Regions from separate parts of the Homo sapiens genome. Here region 1 is linked to region 2. The links come from fine-mapping of genetic effects on gene expression. A gene starts in region 2. The other region holds a variant in brackets. All regions are shown on one strand. Distances are between the middles of the regions.

Evidence for each region. PIP is the estimated chance that this variant, and not a neighbour inherited with it, causes the effect.
Region 1: its variant is the best candidate, but not a certain one, in a credible set for the expression of LONP2 in whole blood (TOPMed, PIP 0.64).

The regions. Positions count from the first base shown.
Region 1 is chr16:48,190,692-48,195,084 of GRCh38, reverse strand. ABCC11 (ATP binding cassette subfamily C member 11) reads left to right here. Exons shown (of 30, transcript NM_001370497.1): 19 at 1,103-1,206; 20 at 2,368-2,565. Among named protein-coding and RNA genes, the nearest start is that of ABCC12, 37 kb to the right of the region's middle. The variant C/T (reference allele first, on the strand shown) is at 2,311.
Region 2 is chr16:48,242,266-48,246,658 of GRCh38, reverse strand. It overlaps LONP2 (lon peptidase 2, peroxisomal), which reads right to left and starts at 2,359. Exons shown (of 15, transcript NM_031490.5): 1 at 2,038-2,359. The coding sequence starts at 2,270. All of the region lies in intron 1 of ABCC11 (ATP binding cassette subfamily C member 11), which reads left to right. RefSeq lists an enhancer at 2,334-2,423.

The DNA.
Region 1 (4,393 bases), 52 kb after region 2:
GGCACGGGACATGTGAGCATGAATAGATGAGAGGAGTGCTAGAGCAGGAGGCAGTGCCCCAAGGAGTGTACCCTGCCTTTTCCTGCCCTTAACTGCTTCAAATCCCAGCTCTGCCACTCACCAACTCTGCAAGTTTGGGCAAGGGAGTTCCCCTCTCAGATTAAGTTTCCTCATTTTATTAGCCTATTTGTGCTGCTGTAACAACATATATTAGACTGGGTAGTTTATAAAGAACAGAAATTTATTTCTCACTGTTCTGGAGACTGGGAAGTCCAAGATCAAGGTGCTGGCAAGTTTTTTGTCTGGTGAGGGCCCAGTATCTACTTCCAAGATGGCGCCTTGAACGCTGTGTCCTCCATCCCTGGAGGGGATAAATGTTGTATCCTTACATGGTGAAAGGGACAAAAAACCAGGAAGGCAGCTCTCTGAAGCCTCTTTTTTAAGGGCATTAATGCCACTCATGAGGGCTCCATCCTCATGGTCGTCACCTCTTAGAGGCCTCACTTTCTAATACCATCACCTTGGGAATTTGGTTTCAACATATGAATTTTGGAGAGACACATACATTCACACAGTAGCACTATTGAAAATGGGGATAGGAATTACTAATTCAGAAATAATGCATACATTTGGTACTATTCCTGGCATGTAGCACATAATAGTACGTACCACATAAAAGGTAACTGTTATTATTATTTATAAAACTGAACCTGCAGGACCTGCATAAGGTGAACTAACTTCTCTAGAACACTGCCCTGTGCCAGGCACTGGGCTGAGTGCTTCACACACATTATATCATATCATCTTCAGCATGGCTCTGAAGCTGGTAAGGTTATCACTATTTCATAGGTAAAGAAGTGGTATGTTGCTGACATTTGGTACCTTATCCAAGGTCACACGGTTTGGAAGTGGTGGAGCCAGGATTTGAACCCAGGGCTCTCTGACTTTGGAACCCAGCTCTTCCCATTCCTCCAAGGTGTCCACATTGGGTGGGGCTCAAGGGTTTCCAAGCACTCAAAGACAGAGATGGCCGAGCAGCTGAGTCAGCAGTTGCCTCGCACCTGTTTGTGGCACTTGTACATCACCACTGTCTCCCTCCCAGGTTACATGGTCTCTTGCATAATTTTCTTCTTCGTGGTGCTGATCGTCTTCTTAACGATCTTCAGCTTCTGGTGGCTGAGCTACTGGTTGGAGCAGGGCTCGGGGGTGAGTGCCATGAGGTGGATGGGCTGTGTTTCTATGGGCTTGAGTGAGGTGGGGTGACTTCTTGCTCCTTGAGACCACAAGAGCCAGAGCATGGCTTGGGACCCACATGACAAGCCCAGAGCTGGTGTTCCAGAGAGAACCGTGGGGAGCCAGGACTCTGGGGTTCCCCTGGCACAGGCCTCCTGACTTTGTAGAATGGGTGGTCGCCTGTGCAGTCTTACTGGAAAACCAAGAGATTTATATCCCCAGACAGTGCCCCAAGAATCTTTGCATTCCACTGCAGTAACTGTCTCCTTTAGCTCCAGGCTGGCCTCCATACTATGGTTTATTTAAAATATACTTCTGGTCTTGTGAGCTGGGAGCCACCACGGGCCACACTGTGTCAAGTTATTTCACTAATCTCCCCACCCACATTCAGAGGAAGGTTCCACTGTCTCCATTTTTCCAAGGGGACCCTGTGCCTAGAGAGGATGAAGAACCTGCCCTAGGACAGGACAGGGCCGGAACTTGAACTTGGTGCTTAGAATCGAAGCCATGCTTTTCCCACAGTACTCCATATGGTTAATTTCTGGATCGTGTACCAGGAGGTTTGGGTCAGGAGAGCAGAAGCCACTCTAAGTATTTAGAGCTTCCAAGGATTTAATATAGGGAATTAGAGGCTCAGTCAACCATTGGAGGGGAATTGGCCATCAGGGATCTCAGCTGAACTGAAGTGGGTGATTCCCAGGATGCCTTCCAGCCTCTGGAAAAACCCCACACCCCATGCTCCTGCCCACAGTTGCCACTGAGCATGCTGGCTTCTCCTCTTCCACCTTTCTGTTTCCCTGTGGGTGCCTCTCCTTGGCAGAATCTGACCTGAAACCATGCTGGGAGGGGTTCTGGGAAATCACGTTCCCAAGCTTCTCGCTGCATCACAGCAGAGCGTGCACAAGGGCCCAGCTGCTGCAGTGTCCACGGGGCAGACTCTGAGGGCCTGATGCAGGGCAGGGCAGTGGGAATGAAGGGCAAAAGAGAGTAGCCAAGCGCTGAGCAGGGAGGTTTGGGCAAACAGCTTCACCTTCTACCAGCCACAGATTCTCACGTGGCCCCAGGGAGAAGGCTTTC[C/T]CTGCCACTGAATTTCCCCCGGACACCTGCAGTCAGACCCCCTGTTCTTTCTTGAAGACCAATAGCAGCCGAGAGAGCAATGGAACCATGGCAGACCTGGGCAACATTGCAGACAATCCTCAACTGTCCTTCTACCAGCTGGTGTACGGGCTCAACGCCCTGCTCCTCATCTGTGTGGGGGTCTGCTCCTCAGGGATTTTCACCAAGGTCACGAGGAAGGCATCCACGGCCCTGCACAACAAGCTCTTCAACAAGGTATGGGCCTGGGTGCTGGGTGGGGCCGAAGGCTGAGCTCTGAACTTGCCCAGCTTCATTTTTATTTTTTTATTTTTTTATTTTTTAGAGCTCTGTAGCCCAGGCTGGAGTGCAGTGGCACAATCTCCACTCATGGCAACCTCCACCTTCCAGGCTGAAGTGATCCTCCTGCCTCAGCCTCCCAAGTAGCTGGGAGTACAGGCACATGCCACTAGATCTGACTAATTTTTGTATTTTTTGTAGAGACTGGGTTTCACCACGTTGCCCAAGGTGGTCTCAAACTCCTGGGTTCCAGTGATCCATCCACCTCGGCCCCCCAAAGTGCTGGGATTACAGGCATGAGCCACCACCCCCGGCCTATTTTTTTTTTATTAGTAGACCTTAATTATTTATTTATCTGTAGAGATGGGGTCTTGCTCTGTTTGCCCAGGCTAGTCTCAAAATCCTGGGCTAATGCAATCCTCCCACATTGGCCTCCTAAGTAGCTAGAATTACAGGTGTGAGCCACCATGCCCGGCCAACTTTATTTTATTATTATTTTTTATTATATTTTAAGTTTTAGGGTACATGTGCACATGCAGGTTAGTTACATATGTATACATGTGCCATGTTGGTGTGCTGCACCCAGTAACTCGTCATTTAACATTAGGTATATCTCCTAATGCTATCCCTCCCCCGTCCCCCAACCCCACAACAGGCCCCAGTGTGTGATGTTCCCCTTCCTGTGTCCTTGTGTTCTCATTGTTCATTTCCCACCTATGAGTGAGAACATGTGGTGTTTGGTTTTTTGTCCTTGCAATAATTTTCTGAGAATGATGGTTTCCAGCTTCAGGATTATAAATCATGCTGCTGTAAAGATAAATGCACATGTATGCACACGTATGTTTATTGTGGCACTATTCACAATAGCAAAGACTTGAAACCAAGCCAACTTTATTTTTTGAGCACTTTTCGTTTACAGAAAAATTGAGATGAAAGTACAGAGAGTTCTCATATACCTGCCTATCACTCAGGCTGGAGTGCAGTGGTGTGATCACAGCTTACTGCAGTCTCGACCTCCTGGGCTGAAGCAGTCCTCCCTACCTTAACCTCCGAGTAGCTGGGACCACAGGGGCACACCACCATGCCTGGCTAATTTTTGTATTTTTGTGGAGACAGGTCTTGCCATGTTGCGCAGGCTGGTCTTGAACTCCTGGGCTCAAGCCATCTGCCCATCTCAGCCTCCTAAAGTGCTGGGATTACAGTTGTGAGTCACTGCACCTGGCCCATTTCTCTTATTCTTAACATCTTGCATTAACGTGGGACATTTGTTACAATTGATGAGTCAATATTGGTACATTATTAATTACTATTATTAATGAATATCCATAGTTCACCTTATGGTGCATTCTTTGTGCTGTGCATTCTATGGGTTTTGAAAAATGTATAATGACATGTATCCATGGTACAGAATAGTTCCGCCGCCATAAACAAAACCCTGTGTCCCACCTATTCATCCCTCCCTCCCTACCCTCAAACTCCCAGCAACCACTGATCTTTTTTACTCTCTTCATAGCTTTGCCTTTTCTAAAATGTAGTTGCAGCTGGGTGAACCAGGCTGCTTGGTGAGAAGGGAGTGATGAAAGTGCGGTGGAGCTCTCCTGCTGGAAGTCTGGTTCTAAGAGCTCAGTGTCCCCTGATGGAGGGCCACAGTGACGCTGGCCTCCACTGGCTGAGCATGGTCATATACAGAGTTGCTTATGATTGCCCTGAGTTCTCTTTGAAGTGGATATTATCCTCATTTTACATATGAGGAAACTGAAATCTCACATATGTTAAAGTTGGAATA
Region 2 (4,393 bases):
ATCAAGGTTGCGGTGGGCTACGATCACGCCACTGCACTTCAGCGGAGGAGACAGAATGAGACTCTGTCTCAAAAAATACACAAATGAATAAATAATAAAAACCTTCCAAAATCTTGCCAGAATAATACCAACAAATAGTGAAACTTAAAATGTGACTAAATCGACTTTTCAAGTTCACAATGTGCCCATGGCTAATCAATACATATGCACAGTAGAAAGAAAATGAAGTCTAATAATGACCACTCTTGCCTAGACAGGGAACTAAGTGTGCCTGGGCACAGAAGGCAAAATAATTTGGGAAAAGTAAGCAGAAGGAGCAGAGTCGTATGTTGGGAAACTAGAATCCAATACAATTTATCAAAGAGTACTGAAACTTGGAATGTGACCAATTCCACTCAGGCAATAACCAAAGCAGGTCAGATGGGAGCCAAAATATTTTCCATGCTTGAGAAAATCAAGGCTTTTACAATATAAATGAATACTGGGCTGCTGTGGAAGGTTTGTTGGTCTTTGTTGCTTTGTTTTGCTTTCTTTTAACGGGGGTGGGGGGAGGTACCAGTCTCCTTTGAGAATCTGAAGAAAGCAAAGGATTCTCCTAAAAAAATGTACATAGTCACAAGATTTTGAGGAAAAATAAGACATGTCCAACCCTCCGGAAATCCATTCAGAGTCAGGAACCCCTAATTTAAAAATAAGGGATAACTGCCAGGAAAGGAGAAGCTCTAAACTGAAAACACAACACCTCCAGTAGAGTTAGGAATAGGAGGCGGGTGCTTGGCAGGTGAGTTTGAAGATACTTGTTGAGAGCATACGATATACCAGCATTGTCCAATAAAAATATAATGTGGACCACATATAAAATTTTAGTGGCCACATTATAAAGTAAAAACAGCAGAAATCTTAACATTTTATTAACCCCAAGTACTCAAAATATTACCTTTCCAACATTTAATCCATATAAAATGTATTAATCAAAAAGTTTTTTCAAAATCTGGCGTGTATTGTACACTTACAGCACATTTAGGGTGACCAACCTCCTGGTTTCCCTGGGACGGAGGGGCTAAAACATAGGACTTTCAATGCTAAAACAGACAATCGCAGCAAACCAGGACAACTGGCAATTCTATCATCTCAATTTGACGAGCCACATGCACTACACAGTACTGGACAGCAAAGTCATCCATCATGCATGGTGCAAAGTGGAATATACACATTATTCAATTTATTCTTCATAACTTGCCTAAGAGATGGATGCTGTCAGTTTCCAAATTGCAGAATAAAAGAAATAGAGGTTAAAGCTCTCACCCAAAGTCACACCAATAGGGCGAGGGTACTGGGCAATATAGTAGTAAGCCTGGGGCCTAAGAAATGTTATGAGTGAAGGAGCAGAGGTGAGAAGCTAGGAAAGTTCCAGAAAGGGGGACCAGCGAAAATGTGAGCAGTAAAGGCCCTTTACAAAGGGAAACAGAAGGATTAGGGGGAGAAGGAGAAGGGTGGCAGGGAGTATAGAAGAAAGGCACCCACAAATAGTGCAGTTTAGGAATGAAACAGGAAAAGTTAAAACTCACGGAGCAGAGAATGCCTCAGCGGACAAAAATGATGGGTGACAGAAAAGGGGAGGCGGATAGGAGTAAAGGGCAGTGGGGAGAAAGGTGAAAAGCGAAGGCAAGTGAAGGCAGAGATCACCGGGGAGAAAGAAAGGGCCTGGAAAGTTAAAAGCACTGGCCTAGGAGGCTGAAGACCGAGGGCGAGGAATTGCGGAGAGGGGGAAGAGGATTCAAATTAAATTATCCAGAACGGTAGGGAACTGCGTAGTTTCACCAGGTGTCAGGCACTACTTCATGAACGATCTCATTCATGGTCATGGGGCAGGTATCTGACATCCCCATTTTGCAAGTGATAGCACCAGAGAGGCGGAACCGAGCCGCGAAGGCCGCCCCGAACTGAGCCTCGCGCTCAAGGCAGGCCGTGGCCTGGGCCCAGGTCCCCGGAGGAGGCCGCGCCGCCCGCCGCCGCCGCGGGGGCAGCCAGGCCTACCTGTGCAGCGGCGGCAGGTCCTGCGCGTCGCTGGCGGGGTCAGGCGTGTTGGGGATGACGCCCAGGATGGTGCTTTGCAGCGACGTGCCCTTCAGAAGGCGGCTCCGCACCAGCTGCAGGTTGCGGGCCGAGTCCACGCTGGTGCGCATGGTGGAGCCGGGCAGCAGGACGCCCTCGTGGGTGAGCAGCAGCGGGAGGCGACTGGGGATCTGGATGGGGCTCACTGATGACATGCTGGCAGCCTTTCGCACTGGGGGCTGTCAAAAAGAGCCAGACAGACAGCTGCCCCCGGCCTGCCCCGCAGTCACCAAACCTCAGACCCGCCTCCACGCCTCCGCTTCCGGCTACGCGCTACGGTCCGTCCCCGGGCCCAAAAGCCATGGCTTCGCGCTGCTCTCTAGGAGAGCCTCCCGGTAAGACTTGAGCGTCCTACCTATGCGGAAAGACGTGCACTCAAGCGTGCAGCGACCTTCGCCTCACTTACAGAGTATATTTGGAAGGATGATCTTATTTGAATTGTATATACTTGAAGTGTTTTTAACGTTTTCTTCGATTTTTTACATATACTTGAAGTGTTTTTAACTTTTGATTCGAACTAATTATTTATTTATTTATTTATTTATTTATTCTGAGACAGATTCTCGCTCTGTCGCGGAGGCTGGAGTGCAATGGCGCGATACCCACGGCTTGCAGCCTCTGCCTCCCGGGTTCAAGCGATTCTCCTGCCTCAGCCTCCCGAGTAGCTGGGATTACAGATGCCCGCCACCACACCCAGCTAATTGTTGTATTTTTAGTAGGGAGGGGATTTCACCATGTTGGCCAGGCTGGTCTTTAACTCCTGACCTCAAGCGATCCGTCCACCTCGGCCTCCCAAAGTGCTGGGATTACAGGCGTGAGCCAACGTGCCCGGCCCGAATTGATTTTAGATGTACAAAACTACAGCAGAGTTCCTATATACCTTTCACCCAGTTTCGTCTGTTATCATCTTACATAATCATAGTTCAATGATCAAAACCAGGAAATTAACATTATTATCGTTTAACCTATAGGCCTTACCCAAATTTTGCCAGTTTTCCCACTAATGTCCTTCATTGGATCTGGTCCAGGATCCAATATCCAGGATCCTGTTGTGAAATCTCCTAGGTGTTTTGTTATGAAATCTCCTAGGTGTTCTCTAATCTGTGGCAAGTCCTCAATTTTTTTTTTTTTTTTTTTTTTTTGAGACGGAGTCTCGCTCTGTCACCCAGGCTGGAGTGTAGTGGCGAGATCTCGGCTCACTGCAAGCTCCGCCTCCCGGGTTCATGCCATTCTCCTGCTTCAGCCTCCCGAGTAGCTGGGGACTACAGGCACCCGCAACCACGCCCGGCTAATTTTTTGTATTTTTAGTAGAGACGGGGTTTCGCCATGTTAGCCAGGATGGTCTCAATCTCCTGACCTCGTGATCTGCCCGCCTTGGCCTCCCAAAAGTGCTGGGATTACAGGCCTGAGCCACTGCGCCCGTCCAATTTTTTTTTTTTTTACAACCTTGATACTTTTATTTTTTTTCTGTTTTTAATTTAATTTTATTTTTTATTATAGTTTAAGTTCTAGGGTACATGTGCACAACGTACAGGTTTGTTACATATGTATACATGTGCCATGTTGGTTTGCTGCACTCACTAACTCGTCATTTACATTAGGTATATCTCCTAATGGTATCCCTTCCCCCCCACTCCCCACCACCCAACGACAGGCCCCTGAGTGTGATGTTCCCCACCCTGTGTCCAAGTGTTCTCATTGTTCAGTTGCCACCTATGAGTGAGAACTTGCAGTGTTTTGTTTTCGGTCTTTGCGATAGTTTGCTCAGAATGATGGTTTCCAGCATCATCCATGTCCCTACAAAGGACATGAACTCATCCTTTTTTATGGCTGCATAGTATTCCATGGTGTATATGTGCCACATTTTCTTAATCCAGTCTATCATTGATGGACATTTGGGTTGGTTCCAAGTCTTTGCTATTGCGAATAGTGCCGCAGTAAGCATACGTGTGTGTGTGTCTTTATAGCAGCATGATTTATAATCCTTTGGGTATATACCCAGCAATGGGATGGCTGGGTCAAATGGTATTTCTAGTTCCAGATCCTTGAGGAATTGCCACACTGTCTTCCACAATGGTTGAACTAGTTTACAGTCCCACCAACAGTGTAAAAGTGTTCCTATTTCTCCACATCCTCTCCAGCACCTGTTGTTTCCTGACTTTTTAATGATTGCCATTCTAACTGGTGTGAGATGGTATCTCATTGTGGTTTTGATTTGCATTTCTCTGATGGCCACTGATGATGAGCATTTTTTCATGTGTCTGTTGGCTGCATAAAT